2 separate regions of the Homo sapiens genome follow, and region 2 is linked to region 1. A link means that fine-mapping ties the variant in region 1 to the expression of a gene that starts in the linked region. Tissue or cell type: blood mononuclear cells. Region 1 holds a variant in brackets; the other region holds the start of a gene. All regions are shown on one strand. Distances are between the middles of the regions.

Region 1 (11,916 bases):
TTGTGTATTGACATTCTCACATTAGGCTTGTTCTACTTTGAAGATTAATATTCTAACATTAGAATTTTAAAAGTATATTTGTAGTTTAAAACTGCTTTAATGATTATTTGCTCTATAAATATGCATAAATAAGGATGGCATCATTGTAATCGCTTTAAACCCTTTTTTGGGTAATACATCCTTAGTTGGGTTGAGTTGGAAGTGATGATCTTTGGAATATGCACATGAATTAATTGGTTACTCTATCTTGGGATATGTCAGAAGTACTACTGCTTCAGTGAGAGGACTCTGGCAGGAGATGTTATTTTTTACCAGCCAGCGGTGTTTATCTTGATTTGAAGGAAGCAAGCTTTATCAACATAGAGGATAATGATTTACTTGTCTTATCCTTTCTCTTTGTAGCCTAGAGAAATTCCAGAAAATAGTCTTTTTTTCTTTTTTAGGAAGAAAATATAGTCTTCATATGAAAAGCTTTGTGTGCTTTTCTGATCAAAATACAGAAGGATTTTTATCTTTTGATCTACTAAATTTACTTATCAACATAGGTGTTAGCTTTGCTTTTCACTCCTTCCTTCAAAATTGTAGGACAGAAATTTGGAAGTCAGGAAAGCAAGTGAATGTGACAAATGCTTATTTATCTTGCAAAAGTGCTTCATAAGTATAGTCTTTTCTTCAGCTTGTCCTTCATACCATTGATAAACTGGACTTTAAAGAACTTATTAATGAAGGTGGCAATTTAGTTCTGCCTGAACCAACAACTAGTTATATGATCTTGCATAAATCATTTTTCCTTTCTTGACTCAAGTTCCTTCAGGTAAACAAAAGCTATAGACTATCCAAAAGCCCCTTGTAATTTAAACATTCTGTCATTTTAATTGTATTATTGTTTAGTTCTTCAACTACATTATCAACTCACTGAAGCAAGGATTTCATCTTCCTTTTGATAGTTTTCAAAATATATTGTGTAGCATATTCGATACAGTAATAGAAATTTGTCTACAACCTCAATTCTCAAACCTTGACTTTCTGAGACTCAGTCTTCCCCATATAGGGATCTCTTGCTCATAATTCCTTTTTTATTCATCCCTCTGCCTTTTCAAATCATTCAAATAAAAGACTTGCCAGGGACCCACAAGGCTCCATATAACTGGCTCAAATCCCCCTTGTTTACATTTCTAACCTCATCCTTTCCCACTTTTCTCCCTTGCTCTCTTAACTGCAGCCACACTGGCTTCTTGCTATCCCTGGAACAACATCAAGCATGCTCCTTCAAGGGTTTGCATTTTTTGTTTACTTCTAATACACTTTCCCAAGATATCTGCACAAGTAATTTCTTTACCTTTTTCAAGTTTTTGCTCATTGTCAGTGAGTCTCACTTTAACCAACTTAACAGAATTAAAATCGCACTCTCCTTCCTTTTGCGCTCATAATTAGGTTATATGCCTGCCCAGCCCCAAATCAAACACAAGTTCAGGGCTGTAGTGATTGTCTTTGCTGATGCAAAATTATATTTGATAGTGCAAAATTTTCATAGGGTAACTGAAAGGAACTGTTAAGAATATCTTAGCACATTACATATTCTAATTTAGAGGTAAAGGTCTGATTTCTTAGAAATTGGTGGAAGCATTTTAAGACTCAATTATGTTTTATTAAGATGAAATCATTTGCTTATTTTCCATCTGTATATCTTCTTTGGTGAAATGTCTGTTCAGCTCTTTCTCTTATATTTTCTTTATTGGGTTGGTTTCTTATTACTGAGTTTTGAAAGATTTTAATATATCCAGGATACAATGACTTTGTTGGATTTGCATTTTTTTCTCCCATCTGTATTTTGTCTTTTCATGCTTTTAACTAACATTGTCTTTCACAGAGAATAGTCCTTTCTTTTGATCAGTTTATCAGTTTTGTTTTTATTTTCATTTAGAGTTCATTTAGATTTTCATTTCCTTTTGATTTCTTCTTTGACCGTTGGGTTATTTAGAAGTATGTTATTTAAGTTACAAATATTTGGGGATTTTCCTGTGATGTTTCTGTTATATTTTGATAATGTAATTCCAGAGAATATCATGGTATGGCTTGAATCCTTTTAAATCAGTTAGGACTTGCTTTATGGTGCATTATATGATTTCTTCTCGTATATGTCCCATATGCACTTAAGGTTTTGTTTTAGATTACAGTTAAGTTATTTGGAAACAGTTTGAACATTTGAGGCTTGCTTTTAAGCTTTGGTAGGTGAAACCAGAGTCATCTTCAGTCCAGTGCTGATTTTGTCCCACTGCTAAGGTGTTACCCTCTGAGTACTGTACAGGATACTCTTGTTGATTATGAGGTTTTCCCACTCTGGGTGGTGTGAATGTCAGCTGATCCTGGGATTTCCCCCCCATTTCTTTTGGGTGATTCTTTCCTCAGTGTCTGGTAGTTTCCTCATATGTGTGCACTGATCATCAGCACTAAAGTCTTGGGTGGGTTGGTGGTGAACCTTCTGCAGCTCTCCAGAGCTCTATTCCTGTGCAGCTTCGTCTCTGTTCTCTTTGTGGAGTCTAGATGCTTTGGCCTTCCAACCTCATCTCAGGAAGACCACTGGGCTCTGCCTGGGTTTCTCCCACCTTGTGCCACATCCTGGAAACTCCAGATATTAAGACCAATTGTAAGGCTTACCTTGTTTGTTTTATCTCTGTCAGGGATCACTGTCCTGCATTTACTAATGTCTGAAAATTGTTTAATGTATTTTTTTAGATTTTTAGTTGTTAGAGAGAGAGCAAATACAGTTTGTACTTTCTCTTGGCTGGAAGCAGATGTCCTGTTTATGGATGTAAAAGTGCTGCTTTAACATTCTGCATCTATGGTTAGAAGAAAAGCTATGGTAACTAAGTACATGGGTAAATAATGTTTGGGAATATAGTTACCATGGAAGTTCTGAGGATCTTCTGTCATCTTTCTGCCAAAAAGTGATTCTGCATCAGCATCTTCCATGTTGTGTTTCACAGTTAATAACCCAAGTCTTCTATGAGAAAGAAACTGGCCAGATTAGGTCATGTGTTTGACTTATCAGCTCTGGCCTGAGGTCACATTCACCAATTGTGGATGCAACTACTGAAAACCCACCCTGGGTATAAGATGTAGTTCCCAGAAACGAGGGAATTGTTGTGACCTGGCTGTCATTCTCTATGTGGATTTAATGTTGATATTTTTTGGCTTTGAAAGGAAAATACTTCTATGTCTAAATGAGAAAAATAGCACCTTAAATTCAAAATTCAGCATTGGTTCAAAATCATTTGTCATGAAAGCTTCTTTTCCAGTTATAATATTAGATACTCCCCTTTGTCCTGTTATATAACAGAGGGTACTCATGCATGCTAATTCATACTGGATCAGTGACAGAGAGGAGAAGAAATGTAATAAACAGGTGTCAGAGAAATCTGTGTAAATACAGTTGAAGGGGAAAGTAAATAGGGACAATAAATTATAGGAAATTAGGAGGCAATCAAAACCTGCGGGAAGAAAATGAGCTGGGTTATCTGCTTCCAGGTCAGATATCTATGTTACCCTCTCCTTTCTAATAAAATTTCAGCATAATACTGGAAATTTTATCTTAGAACTAAGTAATGCTTTATTTCCTCAAGGTGATTGGAAAACACAGTTCTACCAGACTAAAGGGAGATGTGTATTGTAACTCAACAGGAAGACATAGCTTTACTTGTTTTTCTTTTTTTGAAGCAGAATTCTAAGTATTTATTTTTAAATTCACCAATTTTTACATAATTAGAATCTTGAGGCTTCCCTACCTGTAGTAAATTAGATCCTGGATACCTATGTGAATGTTTTTCTTGTCTAGCTAAGAAAAGGCCTAAAAATGAATAAGAATCATTGTTGCATTCTCACCGTAATGATTAAGTAGGAGAATCTCCTATAATGCTTAGTAGATAGAGGCAAACAAGTCTAATAGAGTGCAAAAAATCTCCTTGTTTTCAGGGGCCTGTGGAGTTTTGTCATACCTCCAAGATGGAATGTTTAATGTTGCTAGACAGATGTCCACAAGTGTTTAGAAAGAGCTGCTATTCAGTGTTTGTCAGTATGTGATTTAGAGCTATAGATGATTTATTGAGAAGTCAGGATCCTGGGACATACTTTGATTATTTTAAGGATGGAGGTGGGAGTGTAATCTACATTTTGGAAAAAGTTTCCCAGGTGATTGTTATGCATCTGAAAGTTTGAAGCCATTGTCTAAAGGAATAGGGCTATGGTGGTGCTTAGATCCAACCACTTCGACATAGGGCAGATGATTTTCCCACTATTCTGTTGGAGATGTTGCTGTCAGGTTTATTGGTGTGCTGCCTTATAGCTGATTGTAGGAAAGGAGCAGTGTCTCTGATATGCCCTATGTGTGCAATTGGAAGAACTGGGATAGAGTTAGGAATGGATGAGGGCTTATCAAAGATGAAGTATGATTTAGACTCAGAATAGGCTTTTTTATGTGCAATTAGTCAGTCTTCAGTGATTTTCAAGAGACATAGCAATAGTTTTGATGTCTTGCATAAATGCTAGTATTGAGAAATCTCATTTATGAAGTAGTCTCAAAGAGACATTCAAAAGAATAGATGCTTGGGTGTGTACTCAGCAGTCGCAAATAAAAAGGAAGCTGTTTTCAGAATGAGTGGTATAACAAAAATCTGAATAGCAGTCTAAGAGAAAGGCAAGCAAGATCAGTAGAGCCTTGGGGCTAATGAATAGACATTCCAGTACAACAGGAATGCAGTATGGGCATTTGTAAGGAAAGGTTACAGTAACAAATTTATCACAGATTATCTCAGGGATGATTTTTATGACATACATAGAATTTATTATTTTAATTTAAAACATAAGAGGCTGTGCATGGTGGCTCACACCTCTAATCCTAGTGCTTTGTGAGGCCAAGGTGTGAGGATTGCTTCAGGCCAGGAATTCAAGACCAGTTTGGACAACATAGTGAGACCCTGTCTGTACAAATTATTATTATTTTTTAATTAGCTGGGTGTGGTGGCACACGCCTGTAGTCTTAGCTATTTGGGAGGCTGAGGCAGCCTCAACTGAGGCTGCAGTAAGCTATGATTGTGCCTCTGTACTCCAACCTGAGCAAGAGAGCAAGATCCTGTCTCGATAGATAGATAGATAGAGAGACAGACAGACAGGTAGAAAGAATTGGGCAAACCATTTAATCCCAAGTCTCAAAATGAGTAGATCTTATGTTATCTCTGACTCAAAATTTTTGCTATTCAAGTTCAATAAAAGTTGGAATCTGCAGCTTAAAATTGAGCTTGAAATCAAAAGAGTGGGTTGTTTTGCAGTATTCCAACCTATATTTTCTTTTTTTTTTTTTAAGTCCAATATTTATTTAAAAATCTAATCTGCCAGTTTAGCGTTTTCCACCAACTCGAGAACTGAAACTTTCACGGGCTTCACAATCATTTACTTAGGTGCTGCCTTTGTAGGTGCCTTAACAGCAGCCATTGCAGTGTTTTTAGATACTTTGCTTAGCCTTTTTTGCTTCCTTAGCAGCCCTGATACCTTGTTCTCGTTGAGCCTTTCTAACTTCAGGTTTCTGATTCCTCTTGGCCATTATATCAGCAGGAGAGGCACCTGTAATAGCCCCCTGCAATTTGACTGCTCGGCAAGTTCTTTTCTTTTGAATTTCTTCCAATTGTCCCTTTTTGTGCTTCTTTCTGTAGAGGACAGTCCAGCTTATCTGCCGAGGATTCCCCCTGGAAAAGTACGCCGATTCGCATTTTGCATTAAGAAACTGGAAAACTTTCCTGTCGGTCCTGGCGTAGCGCCTCCCGTGTCCGGGGTAGACCTTGTACCGGCTGAAACCGCATAGCTCGACCTTCATGGCGGCAGCTCCACGGGAGGAGAAAAGATGGCCCCAACCTGTATTTTC[G/A]AGTAATACCCTTTAGAATTCATAAAAGTCTAAGAACACTTTGTAAATGGAATGTTTCATAGTTCACACTAAAGTAAACATAAACTGTTAAGCAAAACTTTAGATCACTTCTTCTAACAAAGGAAATGTACCCGAGAACCCATGAGAAGTAGCTTCAGAGTATTTTTTTTTAACAGTGAATTCTCTGAGGTCTTGGACTTTTAAATTTTATTTAGTTTAATTGCCAAAAGCCAAGGTGGAGCTGTGTAGCATTCTGAGGAAATAAAACCACTTGAAGCAGAGGTATAGTAGAATAAAGCCATTCTGCCTCCAGTATTTGGGTGGATGTATTTGGTACTGTAATCATTTTACAGATTGCTAATTCATTGATGTAAAAGATACTCAATGGTAGGCATGTTGGACCCATTCAATATTGTTTTTTGTACCTTTCTGTTAACTTTTGTATTATTCATATATAATATAGATTTAACCAAATCTATTTTCTTAAAATTGCATATTATTGTTTTATGAAATGTTCTTTTAAATTTTGTTAAAATTTTGTCCGCTTTTTCTACAGAAGTAGGAATGAAATATTTAACATTTTCTGCCAGTTCTTACTTATCCACTGTGTTCCAGAGTCTTTAATTTAAATATTTTTGTTTGCCAGGCTTAGATTTTCATGTGTCTATTAAAAGAGTAGGAACATACTCCTCCATGCCAGACATCTGCTATGTATAAGCATTGATTATTTTCCCCCTTATGAATAAATGTATTTCTTTTGTTAAGTTTGTTGTAGGTTAAAAAAAAAGCATATTTATGTTTCTCCTAAAATTTGGGAAATCAATTTATATTACTCTATGGAGTATGTAACAAATGATGTATTCTTTAATTCTGAATCCTGTATACAGTAGTTACACCCTTATCTTTCATTAATTGCTGTCTGTTTGTAGGGTTTTGAACTATTCTGATTATTTTGCAAAGTTTTTTTTTTTAAATTACGAATGTAATGTATTGCAGTCAATTTTGAAAGAAGGAAAAAGATTTTTCTTTTTATACCAATAACACAAAACATCTATTTTTGTGTATTCCTTTTTAGATTTCAATATGAGCTTATTAAATGTGGTTGTAATCATATATAGTTTTCACTTAATTTTCAATATTTGTTGTTGCTATTGGTTTAAATTACAAAATATTTCATAAACTGCAGCAGTCCCCAAAGCCCCTTGTAAATATTCATGAACTCAACCATAACTTAATATACTTGAGAGAATTATCTTTCACTACCATCATATGACTGAATTTAAATTTATCTAATGTGTTTAACTTTTTACAGGTTAAAAAATTTACAGATAGTTTTTATAAGAATGGTTTGGTTTATATACTCTTTTCATTTCTAAGTTTTAATCAGTTATCTACTTTTTAGTTTACTGTTTCTCTTCTGTTCAATATTTTAAAACTTATTCAGGAATATGAAAAGATATGACAGTTTTATTTTGACTTCTGCATTTTGATTGGGTCCTTCAGTGAAAAATACAGTAGCAGAATTTCTAATGATAAATATTTAATGTAAATACTGCAAATAAAATATAATTTCTTGTAATTTTTTGAATGTATCTTTTAGTTGCACAGATTTTTAAATGCAAGAGATTAGAATATCATAAATAAGCCTGTGTATTATTTTAAGAGCACGTATAGAGGAAGGGGTTGTATGTTGGTAAAATACATTTACTGACCCATGTGTGAATTGGTGACCAGGATTGTTAAAGCATTGAGTTCTAAAAGTTTTTCTCTTATCTTTATGTTCAACAATAGAAAGTTTTACCGTATGGTCAAATAACATCTTCATCAGGTTCTCAACAGGATACCTTAGTTAATTTTCAGCTGAGTGCTTGACAGGATTTTCTCTTTGGCTAGCTGGTTGGATGAGAGTCTAGACACTGAGAGGCCAGGCTTTCGTGGGGCCTCACAATATCATTATTGTGCATGTTGAGTAGGAGCAGCTTCCTCTGATGTAGGGGCTCCATGCCCAAACAACGAAGACAAAGACAGAGCTTTTGTTCTCGAAGAGAAGAGCTAATCCGACTGCTGCACACTGTGAAAAACCTTTTATGAGAGAGGAAAAAAAACTTTCCTGGAAGGTGAAGGGTTAGCAGTTTAACCTCTGACCGTAAAATAAGCTGGTAAGGGGGAAAAAGTGTTGGGTAAGGTAGAAGAATAACAGGAGAAACATTCATCAAGGTTTGTATGCTGTGTTTATAAAAACAGGTTAAGCAAATAACTGTCAGGGGTGGATACTTGAGGTCTAATAATACATGCATATTTCTAATTTTTTTTTGTGCTTATTCTTAAACATAGGTGTTTAAACTTCATAATTTGAAGAGTGTATATTGCAGACCACACTATAAATGCAGGAAACAGTAGATGTCTAGTATTTACTCTTTTTCCTAAAAAGCTCCATTATAGACTTCTGTCAAGTTCTGAATATTTATTTTCTTGTTGTGTGAGTACAAAATCTTGATCCTTTTTCTTCATTGTTTTTTTCCCCAATTTCCTTGTTTAATATGATCATGTTTGTCTATAGAAATAAAGAAGTAGGACACTGCATATCTGCGGTACATAATTAAGACTCTTTCCAATTTGGTATTTGGCATTTTGATACCTATTCTGTTGATACATAGGTCTGGTGGGCAGTGTTATTATACAACTCCTTGGAGGAGATGGTTGCATCTTAGTGTACAAAGAATCCGGAGGCTCTGTCTGATCTTATATTGGCATTGTCAATACCAAGAATGTAGTTACAGTCCATTTAGAGGTGATGGAAGTTAAGTTGCTAGTAACTGTGTCATCTGTCTGCTTTTATTTACCAACCTGGACTAATTGCTTCTCCTCTTGTCAGTCACATATCAATCTTGAGCAATAATTAAGGTTTTATGCACTTGGGCTTCTTGCTTGGATGTATTAATGTATGTAACTTATTCCTGAGAATAACTATGCATATGGGGAAGCAGCAGCTTATATTGTATTATTTGAGTCATATTCTAAGGATCAGTCTGCCATGGTGTCTTTTAACTAACTTAATGTTTCTTCTATTATTCCGATTCCCTTTGGTAACAATACACATTTCTTCCTGTAGTTACCCAGTTTCACTTTTACCATGACAGAAAATGAGGAAAGGAGATAGAGAAGGTGACAGAGAGGAGAGATTGTGCTGGCCATTGAGTGATAATGAGGTAAGGGCAAAGAGATAAGTATAGAAAATAGAAGTTGAGAGTGAGTTGAAGGAAAGAAGAACACGTGAAACACATAGGTGGGCCAGTTAGGAATGGGTGGTGAGCTGTTGTGCAGCACTCTTAAGTTTTGAACTAATAATTAGTTGACCATAAATGTAAAAATTTCTTAAGGAATTACTCTTTTAAGACAGAAGTATAGAAGGATGGCATTACAAAACAAGTGACCAGACTTGGGAAGGTCCTGGGTGAGGGGAGGTAAATTTATATGAAGAGAAAGAAAGAGCCAGTAATAACCTACCATTTTGCTTAATGCATTACCTCTGTTCACTATGGTCAAATTTCTGCATCAGTATCTCAGCATTTTTTCCATCTCGCCTTACAATGATGAATAAAGTGATAGCGAATAGTGATAGTGAATGCATATAATGATATAGTGAATATATGTAATCTCCACTCATCCTATCAACATCTCTCAAGGTGGGTACTGCTATTATCACTACTTTACATTGGAGAAAAGTGAGGCACAGAGTGCTGTGTAGCTTGAGAAAGATCATGTATAGCAAGCTTGTCCAACCTATGGCCTGCAGGCTGCATGTGGCCAGGACAGCTTTGAATGTGGCCAAAAAATTCATAAACTTTCTTACAGCATTTTAAAAGTTTTTCCTTTTTTTTGCTCATCAGCTATTTTTAGTATATTTTATGTGGGGCCTGAGATGATTCTCCTTCTTCCACTGTGGCCCAGGGAAGCCAAAAGATTGGACGCCCCTGGTGTATAATGAGTGAATGACAATGCATGGCATGTCTATATGAAGTTTGACTTCAGTATCCAGCCACGTAACTACCATGCCGTGAATGCTTTAAGAATTCACTGAAGATATAATTATATACTACTGAAAGTTTTAGACTTCAAATGATAATCCCCCAACTCTTTTATTGTTTTACTTCCTTACTACTTTTTTTTAGGACAACCTAAATGGGAATTAATTGCTCACTTTCCTAGAGGATAGACTAGTATTAGAATATACAACAAATATAAGCATATTTTTGGTCTGAGGTCATGAATTTCAAATTTATTCTTTTTCTTTCAGTTTGTTTTCCTGCTATAGTTTCTCAGCCAATAATTATTTTTCTAAATGTGTGATTCTGTTTGTTGTTCCAAAGGACATAATTCTTCTCTTTATGAGTTCTTTGCTAATCTGTTTTAATCCTTTTGGATGTCTCATTTTCTCATTGTTTCTTACAAGTTGTGATGTAAATACTCTCAAGAAGTTACCAGAATAAAGTAGTGTCTGCTATTCCTCGAAACTTTCTAGTAGCCAGTATCCTCCCAGATTTCAGTTGTCCTTTATGTTGAATCATGAAGTTGTCATATGGTAATATCAACATTATGGGCTCTAGTAAGCTAATTTTTAAAGTGATCAACCCTATTCTGAGATTGTATTTTCTTTTGATAGTGTGCCTATAAAATTCAGACATCTCAAAAATGTCAAATAATATACATATATAATTTATATATGTACCAATTCTGATTAAACAACTTGTGTCTAACTTATTTTTTTAAAAGTTCTTAAGGTCAAGGAAACAGGTTTAATAATGTCCATGTTCATTTTCTTTTAAAATGTTAACCTTAGAATCTGCAAAATTAGGATTAATTTTCCTGCATTTAGTGTGGCACATTTGAAAAAAATTAGATAAAAACTATTTTCAGTCTAAAAGCCACCGTAACAGATTAAAAAATTCAAGTAGCCCTTTACTTTAAACATGTGATTAACCGTAAAGAATTTTTTCTTTTCCAATTTAAGTTCCCATGTCATAATACAGAGATAAAAAATAATGGCCCCCTGACACACCTTATTTGGCTCACATGGTATTCATGAAATGTTTAATTATTTTTCCCAACTTAAAAATTAGGTGATTTTGTTTTCATAAATATTCTGGATTTTCTTGAAAAATCAAAAGTATCTGTCAACACTGGGCCCACATTCCACATGGATGGAGCTGAATAATGGTTGCTTTTTTGGGAAGGGGAATGGGATCTATTTTTTACTACATGTCCTTTTATAGTCTGTCTTTTGTAGGCTCACTCTACTCATTTTTATTACCTATATATCCTAAAGGCATTTAACCTTGAAATCTCCCCTTTGTCTTTTCTACCTGTAAAAAGGGACTATATTTGTGTAATATATAAGGTATAAATAATTATACCTTGACTTTTTCTCAGGTTTTAAAGAAAATCTTAATTAGAAAACAAGTTTTATACCATACATAAAAACATTATTTTAATCTGTTTTTAAAATTCTTTGTGATATACCTCTGGCTCTCAAAGTGTAGTCTAGGGGTCTGTGGCGGTTCCCTGGAGTACTTCAGGAGTTCTGTGAGGTCAGAACTTTTTTCGTAGTAGTGAGGCATTATTAGCCTTTTTCGTTCCCATTTCTCACAAGTATATGGTAGATTTTTGCATAGGCTTCAGGACATGATGAAGTTATAACTCTGATGACTAATGAAGTGTGTACTTGAAGATTTTTGTGCTTTACTAATTTTTAAGTTTTGATTTTTAATACATAAATGTCATTTACTATAACTCACCTAAACAAAAGTTCTTTGACGACCTCAGTGATATTTGAGAGAATAAATCAGTCCTGAGACCAAAAAGCTTGAGAGGTACTGTGCTGTACATTATGGGGGCTAACTAAAAACACGTCAGTGGCAAATGCCCAAGGATAATTTGTATAATTACTATTTATTCTACATGATTACTATTTAATTGCCTATTTCTTTCTTGAAGTATGGGGC
Region 2 (11,916 bases), 40 kb before region 1:
ATTTACAATTTTTGGCAAATCACCTGAAAAAGGCAGAAGAAGATCTTTTGCTGTGCTGTATTATTTTTGAGAATTTTACTGTATTTTCTTACTAAAAGTTTAACAGCAAGATATACAAATATCATCATCGACCCATTGAATTTTAGAAATATTTGGATATGTTCAGATTTGGTAGTAAAGGTGTCAAAATTTATCTGAGTTCTTTTGTCCACAAACTGGAAGACAACATTTTTATTAAACTGGATTTTAAATCAACATAGAATGCTAACTCTATGAGCTTTGAGGTGTGAAACAACTCAGAAAGGCAAACTTTCAGGGAAGATATTGATCCCGAATCCCCACCTCCATCTTCTCTTTATTTTAAAAGTATTTCACATGTCTTGTTGAGGGAGATTTTACCTTCAGATTGAAATTCATGATATTGCTGCTAAGTATAAAAAGGACAACATGCCAGGAGGATGTTTTCCTTAACAACACTATCTCAGTCAATATTAAAAGGCAGGTCCTGATAAAATAATTTAAAGATAGTTTCCTAAGAGCTTCAATAAATTCAGTTTGTTAAATACTTTATAACTTTTCTTCTATAATAAATGAAGGTGGTAATACTATTAATAAATTTCACCTAAGAATAGTAATAAGAGGTTGTGCAGAGTTAGTCTAGGAAATGCCTGACTTGGATACATGTTAGCTACAACTCATGAGATGCTTGCCTCAAAAAATTCATTTCTAAGTTAATTGTTTGGAACTCAAAATCTTCATATACATTGGTGAGGCTTATGAGTCTAGTCGAGTTAATTTATACTGAACCTGAAGCATTATTAATAGTATTATTATTTTTAAAAATACCATTCTAGAGTTTACAATAGTGTTTATTATTTCGCATTCAGAAGGGAAAGGAGCTGTCAACTTTAGTAGTCCTGGGTATCAGTAACTCTTCACTTTTGTTTAAGGCATATTACTACAAGGATTCAATGAATAAGTGGTTGGGGTTGGGAAGCCAGGAGTTACCTTTCTAATTGTCATAGTACACTGGAAATCAGGGCAGTTGGCTCACTAAAAGCCCTGAACTTGGGTTTCTCTACACCATTAATATATAGGGATATATAAGTTGGGGACTTTTTGGACCTGGTTTGAGGAAAGTGGACCTTATTAGGTGGATTAAAAAGTTGCAATTAGTCCATTTTACATGACACTATAGTCAGAACCAAGTAATTATCCATTATAGTCTGATCAAAACTTGCATGAAAATCAACTAAAAATTCAGAATTAAGTATTTTTAAAAGCTTGCAATGCATTGAAGAGCAGGCAATCAAGTGAGAATACTTAGGGGTGGAGGATGGGGGACAAATAAAAGTAGCTACAAGAGCCACCTCTCTCTGTAATCCCAGCACTTTGGGAGGCCGAGGTGGGTGGATCACGAGGTCAAGAGATGGAGACCGTCCTGACCAACATGGTGAAACCCTGCCTCTACTAAAAATACAAAAATTAGCTAGGCGTGATGGCAGGTGCCTGTAGTTCCAGCTACTCGGGAGGCTGAGGCAGGAGAATTGCTTGAACCCAGGAGGTGGAGGTTGCAGTGAGCCAAGATCACGCCACTGCACTCCAGCCTGGCGACAGAGCGAGACTCCATCTCAAAAAAAAAAAAAAAAAGAAAAGCCACCTTTCATCTTCATCTTTAGGGTTTTTCCTAAGCTGGATGAACTGGAAGACCATGAACTGTTATCATGGTCTTATGGGTCTTCAGACCCTTCCTAATGTGGGAAATCCAACAGGATACTCTTCATAAAGCTGATACACCCCAAAGGTATTCAAGGACAATTGTCTCAAACAATGGAGCATAGTTAAGGGGAAAAAAGCTTCCCAGAGGATTCATAGCTACAAACCAGGTCTCACATGAATGGTCTGAAGAATTTCAAGCTGAGAATTTAGTGTTTATGTTTCTGAATTGCTAGTGATCCCAAGCATCTACCAGCAGTAAATTAATATCTTCTCCAGAGAACTCATTTTCATTTCAGCTGTCACTCAATTTCTATATATAAAGTTCTAAGGATCACATAACATAAAAAGAAATCACATACATAGAAGAAATCAAGAGACCATAAGTATGAACAAGTAGAAAAAAGATCAGTTAGTAGAAGCAGACCCACAAATGCTTCAGATATTGGAATTTTTAGAAATAGAATTTAAAGTATATATATTAAATATTTTTAATAAATTAAAGAGATGCTGAAAATATGAGTTAAGAGAATACAGATTTGGAAAATAACCAAACAGAACTTTAGAAATAAAAATAATATAAATTAAAAACTAAATGGGTGACTTTGACAGAAAATGAGACAAAGCTGAAGAAAGAATTAGTGAACAGAATATTTTTGAAATTTTCCAGAATACAGCGTAGACAGATAAAGAGAGACATACTATAAAAGAGATGTTTGACAAACATGGAGGGTAGAATAACACATGTGTTATCAGAGTCCCAGAAGGAATGGAAAGAAAGGAGTCCAGAATTTTCCAGAACTGATGAAAGTCACCAATCCAGAGTCAAGAAAATTAAAGAAACCAAGAAACATGGATGAATAAAAATCTACACCTAGATACTTCACAGTGAAACTATAGAAAACTAAAGACAAAAATGAAACATCATAAATGCAGTCAGAGAGAAAAAACAGATGACATTTTAAGATTACTTTCAAAGTTCCAATTGTTATTAGGGAACTTAGAAGACAGTGTAATGATATTGATAACATGCAGAAAGAAATAATAGTAAACTTTGAATTCTTCATCAGTGAAAATATTTTTCAAGAGTGAGGGATAAATAAATACATTCCAACTCAAACAAAAAGGGAAAGAATTTTAGGCAGAAGGAAAGTGATCCTACACAGAAGATCTAAAATGAAAATACAAAAGAATGGTAAAGTTCTGAGTAAATCTAAACAAACATGGACTGTATAAAACAACATTCATAATGCATTTTTGGGGGGATTTTAGTTTTGAGGGGGTTTTAGAGGTTCTTGTATTGTTTGAGAGAGGGTGGATATCCTTGTGAACTCTGGCTTTAATCAGTTAAAATGTACCTATTAAAATTTCTAGGATAACTCCTAAATGAATAGAAACAGAGTAAATAACTTCCAAACTAGAAGAGGTGGGGGCAGAAATGAAAGCATAAATAGTAATCCTAAAGAATGCAAAAGTGAAAGAAAAAAACAGATCAGAAGAAACAAACGGGAAGTACAAAATTAGATGGCAGAAATAGATTTAAATTTATCAGCATTTTTCTCTCTTTTTTTTTTTTAATTTTTTTTAGACAGTGTCTCACTCTGTCAACCAGGCTGCAATGCAGCGGCATGATCTTGGCTCACTGCAACCTCTGCCTCCCAGGTTCAAGTGATTCTGAAGCCTCAGCCTCCTTATTATCTGGGACTACAGGCTTGCACCACCCACCACACCCAGCTAATTTTTGTATTTTTAGCAGACAGGGTTTCACCAAGTTGGCCAGGCTGGTCTTGAACTCCTGGCCTCAACTAATCTACCCGCCTTAGCCTCCCAAAGTGATGGGATGACAGGCATGAGCCACTGCGCCCAGCCTAAATTTATCAACAGTTTTAATACATGCAAATTGTCTAGGGGTTTGATGTAAGAGCTAAAGATGATCAGACTAGATTAAAAATCAAGACTAAAAATTTTAGATAAATTTGAAACATGATGGTTTAGAAAGTTTGAATGTAAAAGGATGAAAAGAGATATCCTAACATCAGACAAATACTATTCAGAAGAAAACTGTTTAGAATCTAAGGCAAAAGTACGATTGGAGGTAAAGAAAGTAACAACATAATGATGAATGGTTGTATTTATTAGGTAGATATAGAAATTATAAACTGATGTGTATATTATTACACAGCCCCAAACTGTGTAAGGTAGAACCTGAAAGAACTATAGGCTGAAATAGAAAAATCTACCATCATGTTGGGATATTTAAACTCATCTCTCCCATTAATTGAATTATGTCAAGCAGATGCAAATTCAGTAATAGAAGATGTCAACAACACAATCATCGTATTTGATCATGGACATATATTTAGAACACTGTACCCCAAAGCTGCAGAATATATATTCTTTACAAACCACATACAACATTTAAGTCTTGAAACATTTAAAAAATTAACTAAATTAATTAATTAATAAGAAATTAATTAATAAATAAAGACCATGTTCTTTGACAACAATACAGACTATGTTCTTTGACTGGTATGGTCCTGAAAACTGTTAATATTAATTGTCGAGTAGGAAATATCATTGCTGAAATATGATCTTGGGAAGATTTAAGACTAATTTGAAGGTTTGCCCTTTGTACACTTCTCTATCAGTCATATGGGAAGTTCTATATGAAATGAGTATTACTAAAGTTATACCATCGATTTCATTAAAGCTATTACCAAGGTAAGTGTATGATATTTGTTTTCTAATTTTTTAACACCTCATGCATGTAGATCATGTACACCTATGTTCCTATCCCTTTTATTTCAGTAATAACAGAACAGATAAATCTCTTCATTATGGTCAGCCTAAAAGCTCACTTAAAAAGATTTGCTTTGGGATGCGAATGTGTAGTATTTCCCTCGATGTACTTAACATAAATGGAATGAAGAACAATTTTATACTGTTCAAGGGTATGACTGTCATTTAAAATAAAATCCCAACAATGGATGAGGAAAACAATTGTATTATTATCTCCTCACACCAAATTAAAAAGTCCTCAATATGGTCACCCCAAGTAGGGTTCCTTTCTTTGGAAATAATTAATTATAATGAAAGGAGAAGTTTGAGAAATTCAGTAACAGTTGGGGCAGAAGTGGCTTTTAGCTTACGAATTTTTTTTTTCAAGGCTTTGGAGTATGGTCACTTATGCAGAAAAATCTTTATTTGGGAAAAGAAAACTTATGTAGTATAGTTTGCCTAATTGTGAAACTGAAATTCACAGAATAATTTCTCAAAAGATAATACAAATTTGTAGCACCTGTTTTACTTGAACATCACACTGCTCATGTGATGTACAAGTAATAATTCCCATTTTACAAATGTAGGAACCGAGAAACTGAAGTGTCTCACCCCGAGTCAAGCTATGACAACACTTTATGATAAACACATTTTTTTTTTGTTTGTTTGTTTCCCAGTTATGGCCCGTCCTCATTTTTTACTAACAGGCCCATGGCTATACAATATTTCTGATCCTGTTGACCAAGTAGTACCCAATTTTGGCAAGAAAGTTTAAGGTTATATAACTGAGTGCAACTTCAGGTTCTCTGACTCTTGAGTTTTTTAATTCTTAAGACTCCTTTTCTGACTTTTATGTCTTATGACTCACACTACATTCATACCACATTTGGTTTCCTCTCATCATCTTAACTTCTGCATGAATAAAGTCTGAAGTAACCACCTTTTGGAAGAAACACTGTGGCTATGTGTCAAGGGTGGCAGTGTTAGCTGGGAGAAGGCCTTTCCCAGAAGATCTCTGTGTAAGAGCCTGGCCTTCCACAGTCATTTGAATGTCCATCATAAGACTTTTCTACCTGTCTTCTCAGTAGATCCTAAATATGAGACAGCAGAGGAGGGAGACAGGCAATATGAGGTAGAAGTAAATAATCAGCATCAGATAGACCTGGTGTGAACTCCAGCTTTGCCATTACTCCCTGGTTTCTTCATCTGTAAAATGCTGATGAAAGTATCTATCACACACCTATGACAAGTACTGGGTGAGAGTGCACATAACCTGCTTCACATGTGCTTTAGGGCTGTGTAAATCAGTCCCTCCCACGCTTATTCAGTGGTGCCCTCTCTGAACTCGCCTAAACTGCCAGACTATGAGGCCTGCGACTATGTACATGTGTTCAAAAGTTAGTCCTTGGTTATCACTGCAGTCTGTGGTATAGGAATGTCTGCCTCCCACATGCGCAGACAAGTGGGGCACTACCATTTGGCTACTTGACAGGGCTATTTAGCAGGTGCACATGTCTGAACATTCCTGAATCAGGAGGGGGTAGCTCTGGATTTCAGAGAGCTGTAAGCAGGCCACAGCTGGAGTGACGCAAGAGCCAGGGGCATCAACTTGAGCTCTGAATTTGTAGTATGAAATGAAAGGAACCCAAGTCCGTGTGTATGTGTGTGGAAAACACTGCAGGTCGAGGTACTTTTCCAGGTACTTCGCCCTTTGTGGGGTTGCAGCCCCGACGCCCTGGAATCTGGACTGGACCCAGAAAGGAAGCCGGTTTGGTTCATGCTGAGGACACAGGGGGCACCTTGCCTTTCTGGCTAGGTGGCAAAGCGGTACGTGGGCCATCCCAGCAGGCACTAGCGCTCCCCCTGCACCCTCTGGCCGCCCGGGCGCGGGGACCTGGCCCCCGCCTCCTCCACAGTCTCCGACTTGCGAGCCGCACGGCCCAGGTGAAGCCGCTGGGCGCGTCCCCGCGCGCCCCTTCCCCCTCCCGGCGACTTCCTGATTTGCAAGAAGGTGCAGGAGCCGCAGCGGGCGGCCCCGGTCGCAGGAACTGAGAGGCCTCAGCTTTGGTGGCGGCTACCGGCGGAGACGGGGGCGGCGGCCACGCCACCGCTGCTGTCACAGAAAGGCTCTGGTGGGTGGGGTGGGAGGCGGGGAAGTGCCGGGGGCGCAGCCGACATGGGCCCGCCGCCACGGCTGCTGTGAGCAGCCTCTTTCCCTGTGTGGCCGCCGGCGTGGGCGGGGACGGCGCGACCCTCGCGCGGCCGGGCTGCGGGCTTCCAGGCCAGCGCGCGGGGGCCGGACGGACAGCCCCACACCGACATGTAACCATGGACTGCAGGACCAAGTGAGTGGGGGGGCCCGGGCGCGTCGGGGGCGGGCGTCCCTCGGCGGCCCCTCCCAGGCCAGCTCGGCTCCTCCGCGCCTCCGCGCTCAACCGGCTCCCCGGGCGGCCGAGGTTGGCCGGGCGGGCTGGGGGTGCGGTCCGGCCCCCAAGCCTCTGGCCGGCCGGCGGGACGGCGCTAGGCCGCAAAGCCTGCCCGCCCTGCGTCCCCGGCCCTCCGTGGTTGGCGCGGCTCCTCCCGGAGAGGCCACTAGCGCCTTGTCGACGCCCGCCTTTCGGGGGACAGGGGAGGCCGGGCGGCCCCTGACACCGCCGCTGAGGGGTTCTCGTGCTTCCCCCGAGTGTGTCAGATGTGACTCTCCTGGGGCTGCCTGTGTGCGTGTGGTGTCCGGGAGGGAGTCAGCGTTGAGGTTAAGAGGTTATTATTCCGAGTGCTCTCTGAGCATTAAATATAACCGGTGTTTTCTTAAGTCCGTTTGTTACTTTTGTCTTGGATGTTTTCTTATGATTCTGCTTATAAAATTAGATTGGTCTCTGGTGTTTCTTTATGCAGCAACTGTAGATGCATGGTTCTTGCAAAACGGTATCCAATTAGAGGGTACTTTTATGTGTGTGCTAAAGTATTTATCAACGACTACTTTGCTCAGGAGATTAGGTAAAAAGCAATTTTAATAACGGTGGTGATTTTGTTTCTAGGTATCTTAGAGGCATGAGTTTTATATTTTTCTTCTGAAACTTAACTTTGGAAAGAATTCCTTTTTACTTCGCTTACCCACCCTTTACTATCTCCTTCTCAAAAAGTTTAAAATAATGCCATGTATATTTGTATTATTGTGAAAGGCCGTTTGAATTTCACAGAAGTAAAACTGAGTCAATATTTAACTTTTACACCTAAGAGAAATTCTAAAGAATATTAGGGAAAGAGGGAAATTATGTAATAGAATTATTTTCTTCAGTGTGTTTGACATCATGGTGGGCAGGGTAAGTGAGTAAAAATAGTATGCTTCTTGACATTAATTGTTTTAAGAGGGAGGAAGTCATCTGAGCCCAGATTATTCCCATTGAAACAAGTTAATAGCGGAAAGGCTAAAAAAATGTATATTTGCATGTTAATTTATATGTCTTGTCACTTCCTATGTTTCCAGATTCATATCTTATAAGAAAAGCTTCCAAAAAAAGAAATGCTTTTTTTTAAAGTCAGAGCTGGCATTCGTTTCTTGAAGGAAGTACATATTAAATACAGCCAATGTACAAAGGCACTAAGGTCTTGTTAGCAGGAATAACTGAGATATTAACACATTGGCCGTTGTGGTAACAGACTTAATCTTTTACCTTATGATGGAACGAGAGATTTAAACAGCAATGTTATGAAGAAAAAGTGTCTCAGTATATTTCAGTTCACTTTTTGAAATTTAACCAATGTTGCTTTGAAATTTTGCAAATATGGCAAGTTAGTAAAAAAGTCAATAACTTCTGAATTAAGCAAAGTAAACTTACAGTTTCTAGTGGGAAAATCTAACATGGAAGCAGATGGCTGGTTTCTCCAAAGATAATGGATAAAAAGAAGGCTTTTTATGTTGCTAGCCTTAGAGCTATGAATAGTTTGCTACTTTAAATATGCATAAGTACAGTAAATACATTTTAAGAAAAGTATATGCAACGTATCACATTCATGGAGCATTATCAATGTTTTATGGTGATCTAGAACTTGGCAGGTGGAACCATGTATTCATCATTTACACTTATATTGCAAGTCCTTTGGAGACAGCCTGAGAACCTGTGTCAAACTCTGTTGGCAGGGTATAATGACACTTAGGGACACTCTGGCTTTTAAATTTGATCCAATAAGATAAAACCAATACTTTGCATTTTTGTAGCACTTAGTACTTAATGAAGTACTTGCACATATGTTATTTGATTTATAATCCTCACTATTATTCTGTGAAGTGGACAAGGCACCTCATAGGTAAGGGAGAACAGTCTCAGCGTTTAAATGCTTTGCCCCAAGTTTCAGAATTCCTAAGTCTCAGCTCTTTTAAGTTGCTCAATTGAGAAAACAGTTTCATTGTTATTTCTACTATACTGTAGTAATACAGTCACGTGAAATGTATTGAGACAAAAACAAGATTAGTTTTAGAATTAAGAAAATACAAGTTTCATGGAGATGTTTATTTGTCATAGGAAATTAATTTAAACTTTTTCCTTTTAGGGCAAATCCAGACAGAACCTTTGACTTGGTGTTGAAAGTGAAATGTCATGCCTCTGAAAATGAAGGTATGTGTCTTCTGTGTTCTGTTATTTGACAAGGTCTCTTTTTTTTGGGACAAGATCTCATTCTGTTCCTCAGGCTGTGCAGTGGCATGATCAGGGCTCACCACAACCTCTCCTTCCCGGGTTCAGGTGATCCTCCCACCTCAGCCTCCCGAGTAGCTGGAGCTACCAATGCACACCACCATGCTCAGCTAATTTTTGTATATTTTTTTGTGGAGACAGGGTTCACCACGTTGCCCAGGCTGGTCTTGAACTCCTGGGCTCAAGTGATCCACCCACCTTGCCCTCCCAAATTGTTGGGATTACAGGCGTGAGCCACTGTGCCTGGCCTGTTCTGTTAATTCTTAAAATAATTGATTGAATCTGTCAAAGCAAGTGTTAATATTGTGGACTGCTGGAACATGGTAGTAATAGGAAAATAATACTACTAAATGTGTATTCTGCATTGAGTGTCTCAAGTTGCTGGTAATAAAATAGGTGTTAAGTCTTTGCCCTGGGATTGTAAAAATCATGAATGTTATCAGTGCAGCTTGAATTTCAGGTGTGTTGTTAAGCCCATATAACTTACAACTCAGCTTCACCATTCGTTGGTAAAGTTATCATTAGTTTTGGTGAAAGGGCGAATCTTTTCATTTTCTTTCATTTATGTTTGGAAATTTAGTGTCTTTTTTTAAACATTAGTGCACATTCTCCTGCTAGTACCAATGGAAACTACACCACTTCCCTTCTGATGTTTCCAGAACGCAGAATGCAGACTGAGTAGCCCCTTCTGTTGGATTTACTCCAATAGCACAGCACTTTTGCAGGGAGGTAAACGATAGTGTGAAATTACTTGGAAGGGTTTCAGCTGTCAGTTCCGTACAATTTCCTGAAAAGATGAGAGCATAATACTTTAATGTCATGATTTTCATCATTTCCCTCCACTTTTGTCATATTGTGTATTGTGCATATGTGTGGTAGGCGGCAGGGTTAGCAGACAAGAATAAGGAATTCTTTTCTTGCCTATTTTCTTTTAATGTGTTCTTGCATGGTATGTCTTTCTAGATACTTAAAGTATATGTCTTTACTTGCTGTGTGCTTAGACCCTGGATAGCATGATGATTAAGCATAGGGGTTTCGTGGAGACTGATTGGCCATCCTAAAGCCTTGGAGGAAAGTCTGCTGACAATTTTAGCTTCAGAAACTATCCAGCAATTACCTACTCTTAAGTAATTTGGAGCTGCACACCTTAAAATAGAGAAGCCCAACCCAGTTGTGGTGAAATGGGCATGGCTAATTTTAGTATGAAGTCACATATTGTTGGCTCCACCAGCCCTACTACTGTACTCCTGGTCTATCTGAACTGCAGCTGTGGTCAGGTTTGTCTATTGGCAAGGAGTGATCCTAGGTTGTAGGGAGCCTTTTCTAGTTGATGAAGTTATCTTTTATTGTCCTGTATGTAGTAAAGTTTGTCCATTTGCATTATTTTGAGCCCCAACCGGGTCCTCTTTGAAGAATGGATATATTAGGTAGAATGGATACTCAAATGGATACATTATGTTTTCAGCTCCAATTTAATTCTATTCTATAGTGGTTTATGATATAAGTTAATCTAAAAAATATCTACCACAACATTACCGAAGGTGCGTGAAGTAACGCTCATCTGATATTGCTTGTAAAGGCGTGGCACGGTGGCTCACGCCTATAATCCCAGCACTTTTGGAGGCCGAGGTGGACAGATCATCTGAGGCCAGGAGTTCGAGACCAGCCTGACCAATATGGTGAAACCCCATCTCTACTAAAAATACCAAAATTATGCAGGCATGGTGGCCTATGCCTGTGATCCCAGCTACTGGGGAGGCTGAGGCACGAGAATCAGTTGAACTGGGGTTGTGGAGGTTGCAGTGCGCCGAGATAGCACCACCACACTCCAGCCTTGGTGACCAAGTGAGACTCTGTCTCAAAAAAAAAAAAAAATCTATATAGATATATAGATATATTTATAGATACATATATTTATAGATATATATTTATAGATATATATTTATATATATTTATAGATATATATTTACATATATATTTATATATATATTTATAGATATATATTTATATATTTATAGATATATATTTATATATATTTATAGATATATATATTTATATATATTTATAGATATATATTTATATATTTATAGATATATATTTATAGATATGTATATTTATAGATATATATTTATAGATATATATTTATAGATATATATTTTTATATATATTTATAGATATATATACACACACACACACACAACAGGCTAATTTCACTTGGAAAATATGGATTCTCTAATTTTAAATGTGTATTAAAGTGATCTTGTTAAAAGATCAATTTGCCTTATATAACACCCAATCTATGCATGTGTCAGAGAGATTGTGGTCTTCTTATAAAGGCTTTTGAGTGGTTTACTCCCTTCTTCCTCTTTTTGCTCTTTTCCACTTTTCATGAGCTAGTTATTCCAGTTTGTATCTTCTACTTCTGCCCTGCTTTAATATTACACCTTGTCTTTTTGCTGTTGTTATTTAAATCACTACTTTTTAGAAACATCTTCATTTGTATTTTAACAGTTTATATCTAGCCTGGTAAAGTTGTAAATATGATAAATGGTTAAAGTAAATAATGTTGGCTTCTTTGTAGGTTGCAAATAATCCATTCTATATGGCTAAATGGCAGAAAATTCTAAAGATATTTTAAAAAACTAAACTCAGCCATGTAAGCAGCAGTAACCTTTCTTCTTTTATTATGACTTAAATAGTATGAATATGGCTAATATTTTAGGATCTA

Evidence for each region. PIP is the estimated chance that this variant, and not a neighbour inherited with it, causes the effect.
Region 2: it holds the start of DENND1B, and the variant in region 1 is fine-mapped to the expression of DENND1B in blood mononuclear cells (TOPMed, PIP 0.97).

Annotation. Positions count from the first base shown.
Region 1 is chr1:197,729,586-197,741,501 of GRCh38, reverse strand. The region is part of intron 2 of DENND1B (DENN domain containing 1B); the gene reads left to right. It also overlaps the pseudogene RPL24P5. Among named protein-coding and RNA genes, the nearest start is that of DENND1B, 40 kb to the left of the region's middle. The variant G/A (reference allele first, on the strand shown) is at 5,915.
Region 2 is chr1:197,770,062-197,781,977 of GRCh38, reverse strand. It overlaps DENND1B (DENN domain containing 1B), which reads left to right and starts at 6,498. Exons shown (of 23, transcript NM_001195215.2): 1 at 6,498-6,839; 2 at 9,046-9,110. The coding sequence starts at 6,823. RefSeq lists an enhancer at 5,281-5,330 and silencers at 5,705-5,999, 6,291-6,490, 6,641-7,150.